3 separate regions of the Homo sapiens genome follow, and all the other regions are reported to be linked to region 1. Evidence: microRNA targets listed by miRTarBase, many of them from high-throughput screens and not tested one by one. Region 1 holds a microRNA gene; each other region holds the end of a gene's coding sequence.
What was found. Region 1 holds the annotated microRNA hsa-miR-6719-3p (UCUGACAUCAGUGAUUCUCCUG, at 1,398-1,419, shown strand). A microRNA usually pairs through its seed, bases 2 to 8, with sites in the 3' UTR of a target mRNA and lowers its output. Matches are read on the target gene's strand: a 7mer-m8 pairs with bases 2 to 8, a 7mer-A1 pairs with bases 2 to 7 and ends in A, and an 8mer does both.

Region 2: miRTarBase lists ADPRH as a target of hsa-miR-6719-3p. Seed matches in the 3' UTR shown: 7mer-A1 at 1,061-1,067.
Region 3: miRTarBase lists TRIM63 as a target of hsa-miR-6719-3p. Seed matches in the 3' UTR shown: 7mer-A1 at 2,156-2,162.

What each region holds. Positions count from the first base shown.
Region 1 is chr19:39,827,891-39,831,144 of GRCh38, reverse strand. It overlaps MIR6719 (microRNA 6719), which reads left to right and starts at 1,343; the gene lies at 1,343-1,429. DYRK1B (dual specificity tyrosine phosphorylation regulated kinase 1B) reads left to right here. Exons shown (of 11, transcript NM_004714.3): 3 at 362-481; 4 at 582-770; 5 at 1,118-1,265; 6 at 2,562-2,848.
Region 2 is chr3:119,587,644-119,590,897 of GRCh38, reverse strand. ADPRH (ADP-ribosylarginine hydrolase) reads right to left here. Exons shown (of 5, transcript NM_001125.4): 5 at 953-3,254. The coding sequence ends at 3,020. Among named protein-coding and RNA genes, the nearest start is that of PLA1A, 8.6 kb to the left of the region's middle.
Region 3 is chr1:26,049,333-26,052,586 of GRCh38, forward strand. It overlaps TRIM63 (tripartite motif containing 63), which reads right to left. Exons shown (of 9, transcript NM_032588.4): 9 at 1,969-2,551. The coding sequence ends at 2,541. It overlaps LOC105376910 (a long non-coding RNA gene), which reads left to right. Exons shown (of 2, transcript XR_001737948.2): 1 at 1-713; 2 at 1,025-1,322. Among named protein-coding and RNA genes, the nearest start is that of SLC30A2, 4.8 kb to the left of the region's middle.

The sequences.
Region 1 (3,254 bases):
GTACCCAAAATGGCTGGCTTCAAAGTGAAGAATGGGGAGGAACAGAGCCCAGGTTTTCCATATGATCTCTCCCTCTGAGGTTCAGAAAGGAGTAAAGGTGAGGGGTGAAAGGTCAGAGTTCACTCATTCACACCACAGATCTCTAAGAGCATCCATTGTGTGCCAGGCCCTGCTGTAGGCACTGGAGGTATAGTAAGAACAAGAGAAAGTCTCAGCCCTGGGGGAGTTTCTTTCCTAGACAGGTGGAACAAATACAGACAGCAACCAAATACATGATGTGCCAGCAGCCCTTACAGTTCTTCCTCTTGAGGTCGGAGGTGAAGGCACGTCCTCAGTGCCCACCCCTCACCCTGCCCTGCAGGTATTGCCTGATGTGCGGCTACTGCCTCGGAGGCTGCCCCTGGCCTTCCGGGATGCAACCTCAGCCCCGCTGCGTAAGCTCTCTGTGGACCTCATCAAGACCTACAAGCACATCAATGAGGTGGGCAGGGGCTGGGGGATCCTGGGCTGGGTGCCGAGGGTCTTGTCTGCTGGCATGAGTCACTCACCAGTCCCCATCTCCTGGCTGGCTGGCTGGGCAGGTATACTATGCGAAGAAGAAGCGGCGGGCCCAGCAGGCGCCACCCCAGGATTCGAGCAACAAGAAGGAGAAGAAGGTCCTGAACCATGGTTATGATGACGACAACCATGACTACATCGTGCGCAGTGGCGAGCGCTGGCTGGAGCGCTACGAAATTGACTCGCTCATTGGCAAAGGCTCCTTTGGCCAGGTGTGGGACACCCCCCACCACCCTGATCCAAGGCCCCACTAACATTGATCACACACCCAGTGGTTCAGTGGCTTCAAGTCCCATGCTGGGCCACTCACCCTAGCCCACTTAGTTTCCCTGTGCCTCAGTCGCCTTTTCTGTAAAACAGTTTAAATAACAAGACTCAACATAAGGTCGTTATGTTATTTCACATCCAGTGTTTACACCAGCGCCTGACTAATGGTGCGCACTCAGCTGCGAAGTATGCATAGTGTTCTTGGTGGGTCTCCTTGCCTGGAGGGAGAAGAATGGTGCCTGGCTCTGCCCTGCTCCCACCCCTTTCTTCGTGACATGCCCTGCCCCAACAGGTGGTGAAAGCCTATGATCATCAGACCCAGGAGCTTGTGGCCATCAAGATCATCAAGAACAAAAAGGCTTTCCTGAACCAGGCCCAGATTGAGCTGCGGCTGCTGGAGCTGATGAACCAGCATGACACGGAGATGAAGTACTATATAGGTGAGGCCTGGGACTGGCAGGGCTGTGGGCACCTGGGATAGCGGGAGCTGGAGCCAGTAGGGATGGGTCACACCCCCGCCCTACTCTCAGGAGGAGGCTGATGTCTTCAGAGCAGGGTTTGGTCTGTGCTTCTCTGACATCAGTGATTCTCCTGCTGCTTTTATGATTTTTGTCCTATTTTCTTGGTAATGGTCAGAGGTTACTGAGTGCTCACCAAGGGCCAGGCTCTCTTGGAAGCACTTGGAAGTTAACTCACCACAGCCCATAAGGGGAAGGGCATTATTAACAACATCTTGAAGATAAGAAACCTGGGCTTCCATCCTAGTTTCTTCTTCAATAAAACAAACAAAACGGGCTGGGCACAGTGGCTCACGCCTGTAATCCCAGCACTTTTGGAGGCCGAGGTGGGCGGATCATGATATCAAGAGATCGAGACCATCCTGGCCAACATGGTGAAACCCCGTCTCTACTAAAAATGTGAAAAAATTAGCTTGATGTGGTGGTGCGCGCCTGTAGTCCCAGCTACTCAGGAGGCTGAGGCAGGAGAATCGCTTGAACCTGGGAGGCGGAGGTTACAGTGAGCTGGGACCACGCCACTGCACTCCAGCCTGATGACAGAGCGAGACTCCATCTCAAAAAAAAAAAAACCCAAAACAAACAAAAAACCAAACCTAATAACAACAACAACAGTTACAACAACAACAAAAAAAAACGAAGAAAGGAAAAAAGAAACTCAGGCATTCAAGTGCTGTCACTTGCATGAGGTGGCAGTTTGTACTAATTGAGCTATAATTTGATGAGGTCGTGGACTCCAGAGCTGTTACTCTTAACATCTGTGCCAGTCTTTCTCCTCCCTTAAACTGATTCCTGCTCATGGACATAAACATCACAACATAATCATAAACAGCAAGTGGATTTTAAAATGGTTTCGTTTGAAAGGAAAACGTATATCCTTAAAGTAAACGGAAAACCAGTGTCCTTTGCCACAAAAATGAATACAAGGGAGATGAAAGCAGTGTTATGAAATTAAATGAGGAAGTGTAGAATGTGTTAGAGCTAGTAGTAACTAATGAAACTTTCTCTTTGGTTTAATTGGAGGGTTTGACAGAGACTTGGAAAGAGCATTAACTTCCTGTGTGAATCTAGTTGTTAGATAAAAAGATTTTGACTAGCAGATGGTACCCGTGGGGACAGCACAATGTGGCTAGTAATCAAAGAGCGTTGTATGACCCCAGGCCACCACCTGCCCTCTCTGAGCCGTTTCTTCTCTGGCCCATTTCCTCCCCTCCCCCGCAGTACACCTGAAGCGGCACTTCATGTTCCGGAACCACCTGTGCCTGGTATTTGAGCTGCTGTCCTACAACCTGTACGACCTCCTGCGCAACACCCACTTCCGCGGCGTCTCGCTGAACCTGACCCGGAAGCTGGCGCAGCAGCTCTGCACGGCACTGCTCTTTCTGGCCACGCCTGAGCTCAGCATCATTCACTGCGACCTCAAGCCCGAAAACATCTTGCTGTGCAACCCCAAGCGCAGCGCCATCAAGATTGTGGACTTCGGCAGCTCCTGCCAGCTTGGCCAGAGGGTAGGGGGCGGCCCGGTCCTGGGAGCACGGCTAGTAGTTTGGGTGGGGCAGAGCCAACGGGAGGCTTAGGGGCGGGGCTTGGCTGGGATGGGATTATTAGGAGCCGTGGGAACTGAGGGATAATGCTTGGGGTGGGGGTGTGAATATACTGCCCACTAGGATGGGAAGGGTGAAGCCTGAGGGGCAGGGCCCATTTTGAAGCTGCCAGATGTGAACAGGGTGAAGTTGGGTTGGGTTTGAGCCAGGGGTGCTGCCTCGCTAAGTTTTTGTCTTCTCTGTTCTTAAAGCTGAGGATGGAGGTGGAAGGCTTCAACTTTGCAGCTCTGTATGAGCTGCCACTAAAAGTGACGATGGTATAGGGCTTATGGAATGTCAGCCTCTGCCTGGTGACCCAGAAGGGCCCAGG
Region 2 (3,254 bases), not on the chromosome of region 1:
GGACTTGTGGTCAGCATCTGAAGCAGTGGTGAGGGGGAGGAGGGGGCAGTCTTGTGCCTTAACTTGTGGAATCTGATGCTATCATCCAGAAGATAGCATCGGAACTGAATTAGAGGACACTCACTTGGTGTCTGTTAGAAACTTGCTTGGTGCATGGAGAAACAACTCTCACACCTTTGGGTGTCAGAAGTGTGAGTGCTGCATGAGACTGGGAAAAGCACCTTGGTTTGGTTCTTTTCCATCCTTTGTAGGATAAACAGACCTGGTTTTAAACCCCAGTTCCATCTCATCCTGTGTGACTTTGGACAGATGGCAACCTCTCTGAGCCCAATTTCTTCATCTATTAATGGGTTGTTGTGAATGATCTGACACACAGCAATATTCTCTTCCTCTGTTCTTTATCCTTCCCCAAATGGAAAGAGCTTCACCTACTCCCTAGGAATTACTCTTCTCAACCCCCAAGCCCAGAGAGTAAAACAAATGATGGTAGGCTGCTCCCCAGTCCCTATCTAAATGACCTGTGGATCCTCAGTGAGACCCCAGGCAGCCATTGTTGAGAAGCTGGCCGGGGAGGCTGGTTGGATTGTGAAGTTAATCCCCATTCCTTCCCCTCAATGTCCTAGTAGCTCAGTGGCTGTTTTAAAAAGATGCAAGTTTACTCGCTCCAGATAGGTACAGAAAGAAGAATAAATGGAGAATGTGGTGGTTGGAGAATCTTGAAGAAGAGTGAATGAGGTCAATGCTAATTTTATAGATCTAAAACAAACAAACAAATAAACAAAAAACAACTATTGCCAAGACTTCTAGACAACATGTAGCAATCTTGGCTAACAAAGAAAGCAAATGAAGCAGCATCACACAGCAGGTCCAAAAAGCATCATTTGAAATGTCACATATGACCTCTTCTGTTGTTCAATATGCATAGATTAACTTGATAAGAATGGCAAATTCATACGATGTGTCAGACCATCTTTATTGATTTACCCTAATGTTATGCATAAAGTTTATCTCTTCCCCCCATTCGTTCTCATCCTCCCTTCTCTCTCTCTCTCTCTCTTTCTCTGACACACATACACACACATAAAGAAGCAAAGTCACCAGCTGAGAGCGAAGTTTGGGGTGGAAGTTTTGAGGTTTGAGAAAAAAGAAGTCTGAAAGTCTAACCTCTTTTTGAAATGTGCCTGTGATGAAGAGTGACAATCGGCAAAGCAAATCTAATAGGATCTCTAAAGAGCCTTTTCCTGTTGTTTACAATTGTGGCTAAAGCCCTGCACTAGAAAACAACAAATGCTAAGATCCTCCCTGCATCCCCTACCCCCGACCCCCTGGGGCACACACAACCCTCCTCCACCACGTTCTAAAAAGACTGGAAGGACTTGGAAAAACATTCCTATGGGATGAACTAGAAGGTGGCAGGACTGCTATCATCAGACCTCATTTACCCACCGCTTCCAGCTGAAAACCAGGGATTTCACAAAGGAAAAATCATGAGAGTCATAGTTCTGTGGTTTTCTCAAAAGGAGAAGGAAGGGACGCTCTTCCTTCCCACCCCTGAGAACAGGCCAAATGAGAGCAAGCCCACTGGCTGGACTGAGGGTGACCAAATGAATGTGACGATGGCATCTCATTTCCCAGGTGGACATGTGCTGGGCAGCATGTGCCTAGGACTGACCCAGAAGACACACAGCACCACACAACAGGATTGATGTGATGACAAGGCCAAGACAGAAGGCTGTGGGAGGAGTGAGGAGAAGGTGGCCAAGTGCCTGAACAATCAAAGCAGGTTTCACTCAGGAAGCTCTATCTATCTGAGTTGGGTCTTGAAGGACAAGTAAGAATTTATTATCAGGTAGACAAGGATTGGGAAGAGCATCAAGAAATGAAGAAAGGTGATGTATTCATTGGAACATGATTAGTTTAGCATGGTCAATTTGTTATTCGTAAACATAACTCTGGAGGGTAATGAGGGAAGCACGAGCTAGGAGGCTAGTTCATAACACTCAATAGATACTGATTAATGCCTATTGGCTGCCCAAGCACTGTGCTAGGTTCTGTTTAGAAATAATGCAAACAAGCAAACAGACAATAACAAAATTGGTAATGTGTTAACTGCCATGATGAGGAGAGTACTGAGAGCAGCTCAGAGCAGCATCTCCCAGACTTGAGTAGCTTGGATTGCAGAAATCCAGCTGAAAAATCCTCAGTGCAAGAAGGCAATAGAGGTGATAGATTCAGAGTATATTTAGGAGGTAGACCAGCCTAGCAGATATTGTTAGGACCCCACATATGTCCCTCACTGTTCCCATGCCCTTTACAGCTTGCCCCTGCAAGTATCTCTGAGTCTTTACCTGAAGACACTAAGGTTTGGTTTGTACAAAGGGTAAGCCAAGAATTACCAGGGAGTTAGCATCCCTGGCAGTGGTCCTCAACCAGTGTCAGATGGAAGTCAGTGGATAAATACCCCAGGTTTGCTTGCCCTTCAAATGGGACAGTTCTGAGGAATGCTTTAGGCAGAGGACTCAGATGGCAGAGTGCCAACCGCCCACAGTGGAAACCTGCTCATTAACATACCCCATACTAGCTCTCTTCCCTTCCTGGTTTCATTTCCCCATTCTCATATCGGTATTTCCTGGAATCATCTCCCATATAAACTGCTTGCATTCAGATCTTTGTCTCAAAGTCCACTTTGTGGGAACCCAACTTGAGACAAACAGAAAAAACTTTTAGAACAAGTAGATGATGAAAATGAAGACTCAAATATGAGGTCATGAGATTTTTTGCTTGCGAGACGCTGACCCTATCAATTGAGCTAAAGGACTCTTCAGTGTAAGAAAAGGGATAGATTCTGGAAGAACAGGATGAGCCTGAAAAAACTGAGCTTAAGGTGCCCAAGGGACTTGTTATCTCAAAATTCCCTGAGTACAAGGTTAAGACTCTTGACTTTGGAAAAACTGAAAAGAAATAGCAGAAAAGGAAATACACAAAAGAAGAATCCATCAGAAGTGAACATCACGTCTCCCTAAAGGGAAATTACAGTGTCTTCTTTTGACCCGAGAGAATATAAAGCCCTAGCTGTCTCTTCCAGCCGGTTTCTGTATTCTAGTTTCTCATAGTTGGAGGGACTCACTCCTTTAAAACCATACATAACTCCCCACCAGCAGCCAGCAATGGCAGCTGTAGAATCACTGTCTCCACCATGGAAAAAGGCTCGGTGGGCAAGCTCCTTCCAGGAGTCTCCTGCAGCAAGAACAGCA
Region 3 (3,254 bases), not on the chromosome of region 1:
CAAAATGAAAGACTTAGGGTCAGGCAGCATTCCAAGCACCATGAACTTGATGGTCCTCATCTAAAGTTAATTCGCTTTCTTTACGGTGGGACGACTCGGACCCCTTAATTTGCTACTGTGATCTGAATGTCTAAAAGGGGGAACAGGCTCTGCAATGCTCCTCAAAGTTGTAAGTCTCTGGTGTATCAGCCCCGGTGAATGCGCTGCCTCGGATTCGCTCAGCCTTGCCTCTCTCCAGGCCCTTGGCTTCTTGCTCATGGAGATCCTGGATGCTACTGGGCCACAGTCATGAATTCATCCCCTACTGCCGGTGGCTGACTTGGCCTTTCCTGGCGTGAGTCTGGGCACCAGCCTGGCCCCATTGTGTTCACTGAGGTGGAGACAGCAGCTGCCCCACCCTTGTCCAACCCAACTGGACCATGGAGGCCCTGGCACCTCCCACCATCTCCAGACTCAGCTGAAGTACCACCCAATGGGGCAGGTGACCTTGCTGCCCCTGCACCTGCACCACCTGAAGTCAAGGTGGAATGAACAGTATGGGAGGCGGGAGACAGGAAGGAGCCAGCAGACACATTTCTTTTTTTTTTTCTTCTCTAGATGAAGGACTTTGAATCATGTTCTGTTCTTTATGGCCTGCTGGAAACATCTCACATGACTAAGCAGCCAGCCCAGTCTTTGGTGAAGCTGTGGCCAGCTCAGCCACGTGACACCTTGTACTTGCTTCCCTCCTTGCCTGCCTCGCTTCCATTTTCCTTCCCTCTGTTGGCCTTGGGAGTGTGCCTCATAGGGTCTCAGAAAACAATACCCCGAAATGAAGGCCTCCCTCGGAAGCAAACATTTCTCTCTGACCTTCTCCTGCCCTCCTGTCTCTGGTCCCTTATTCTCCCCCAAGGCTAGCTATAAAAACTACAATCCCTCTTCACCAAAAGCCTGCCCTAAAACCTAAAAATATTACTCTAACTTTCCTCTTTCTTTCTGTGTAAAATTGGCCATAGGAAATTATTTGACCTTTGTCTGATTGTAGGTCAGAAGACCCCCATCCAGAGAGAGTCCTGCGCCATATGAGGAAGGAAGGAATGCTGCGCAGAGAGGCCGAAAAGAATCTTGACAGACAGGCCTCGCTGGGTTCCCCACTCAGTCTATCAGCATTAGATCAGGCTCTTTTGTCCAACCGTATTTCTACACGGCCATCCATACTTTGTTGAACTGAAGCCTAAAAATGGACAGTTTCTCCTGTATCTTTGGGTGTTCATTCTGAAGGTTCTTGTATCTCATAAAACCATGGTCAAATAAATTTGTGTATTTGTTTGCCTTTTCTCCTATTAATCTGCCTCTTTTTTTTTTTTTTTTTTTTTTGAGACGGAGTTTCACTCTTGTTGCCCAGGCTGGAGTGCAGTGGTGCGATCTTGGCTCACTACAACCTCCGCCTCCTGGGTTCAAGCAATTCTCATGCCTCAGCCTCCCAAGTAGCTAGGATTGCAGGCATGCGCCACCACGCCCAACTAATTTTGTATTTTTAGTAGAGACGGGGCTTCACCATGTTGGTCGGGCTGGTCTGGAACTCCTGACCTCAGATGATCTGCCCTCCTTGTCCTCCCAAAGTGCTGGGATTACAGGCATGAACCACTGCACCTGCCCAGCCTTAATCTGCCTCTTCTTGATGATTTTCAGTGAGCCTTCAGTGAGCCTTCAGTGAGCACGGGGAAGTCCCTATAACCTGCAACTAAAGCATTTAAATTTTGCCTCAGGCTCTGTTTTCTGGAGAACCAGAGCAACAACACATTGAACCTGTTCTTGAAGGACCAGCTCAGGGCTGGCTTTCCATGGAGTCCACATTGGGAAATGGTGGTGTCGAGAACTCCTTTACTGGGACCTAAGCCTAGCCCTGCCATTGCCTCCTACCAGGGGTCCTGTTCATTCACACTCAACCCTCATCTCCAGGAAAAAAAGGCTGAATGAAACCCCGGCTCCTTTGAAGAACAGGAAGAGAGCATTGTGCATTTATTAAAACAACATATAACACAAACTCAGTTACCACCCCGTATGTCTGGGATAGGCACTGAAATACAGCACATCGTCCCTGTGAGTGCTACCCCATCCTCCTGCTCAGGAAAGGAAGTGGGCAGCTGTATCAACCTGGCTTCCTTCCCCTCTTTCTGACAATCGCAGGTCACCCAACGACCAGGCATTATTATACAAAAGTTCCTTTACAAAAAGCACCAAATTGGCATACATATACAAGTATATACAAAAATCACATTTTAAAAATGTACAAAATATTCCATTTTGCACCAATGTAGAAAAGTGTCCTGTGTGATTGTTTCAAGCACGTTTCCAATTCTGGTTCAGTGTCTGCTGGACGCAGCGGTGAGGGTCCTACCCTAGTCCCTGCTCTCTGAGCAGAGAGAAGACATCACCTCCCCATTGCCCCTCCAGGGGCCCCGACCCCTCCCACCCTGGGCCTGTCACCAAGGCCGCTGGGCCCCTCCCCACCCTCTCCAGTCTCTCTGCATCTGGGGGCCTCTCATTCATCCAGCTCCTTACTGGTGTCCTGAAATGAAGAAAAAGATACAGAGGCAAGGGGTGAGACAGGGACTCAGGAGGATCCAAGGCTTACCAAGCTACTGTTTATTCAAACAGGAGTTTGAATAAAACATCAAACTCCAATTCCTCCCGGTCTCTTCCTTTTAAAACCAAAATAGAATTTAGCTGCCCAAATATTATGGATTGTACATCAGTACAAAACTCCAAAAGACTACCTATAGTTTTCAACTGGATTGGAATTTAGTTTCAGTACCTGTGGTTTGAAAAATAACATTTGCAAGCATGTGCTAATTAGCAAACGTCCTTCCTATGCATCAGACACCGTGCTAAACGATTATCTTATTCACTTCCCACTACAACCTTTTGACGTCAGTACTGTTAGACCCCCATACACAGATGAGTAGCCCAAGACTCAGAGAAATTGTGAGCTGCTGTGATTCAGAACCCAGGCTCCTAATCAAACTCTGCCAGGCTGGCAAACTCAGATGCCTACAAGGAGCCAGCAGATAACATGAATGAGTGAAGCAAGCGGGACTGGTGGTGGTGGGGCTGGGCAAACTGGCAAGGGCATGTCCCATTTTTCTTTTCTTTTCTTTGTTTTTTTTTGAGATGGAGTTTCACTCTTTTGCCCAGGCTGGAGTGAAGTGGCGTGATCTCGGCTCACTGCAAGCTCCGCCCCCCTGGGGTTCTAGCGATTCTCCTGCCTCAGC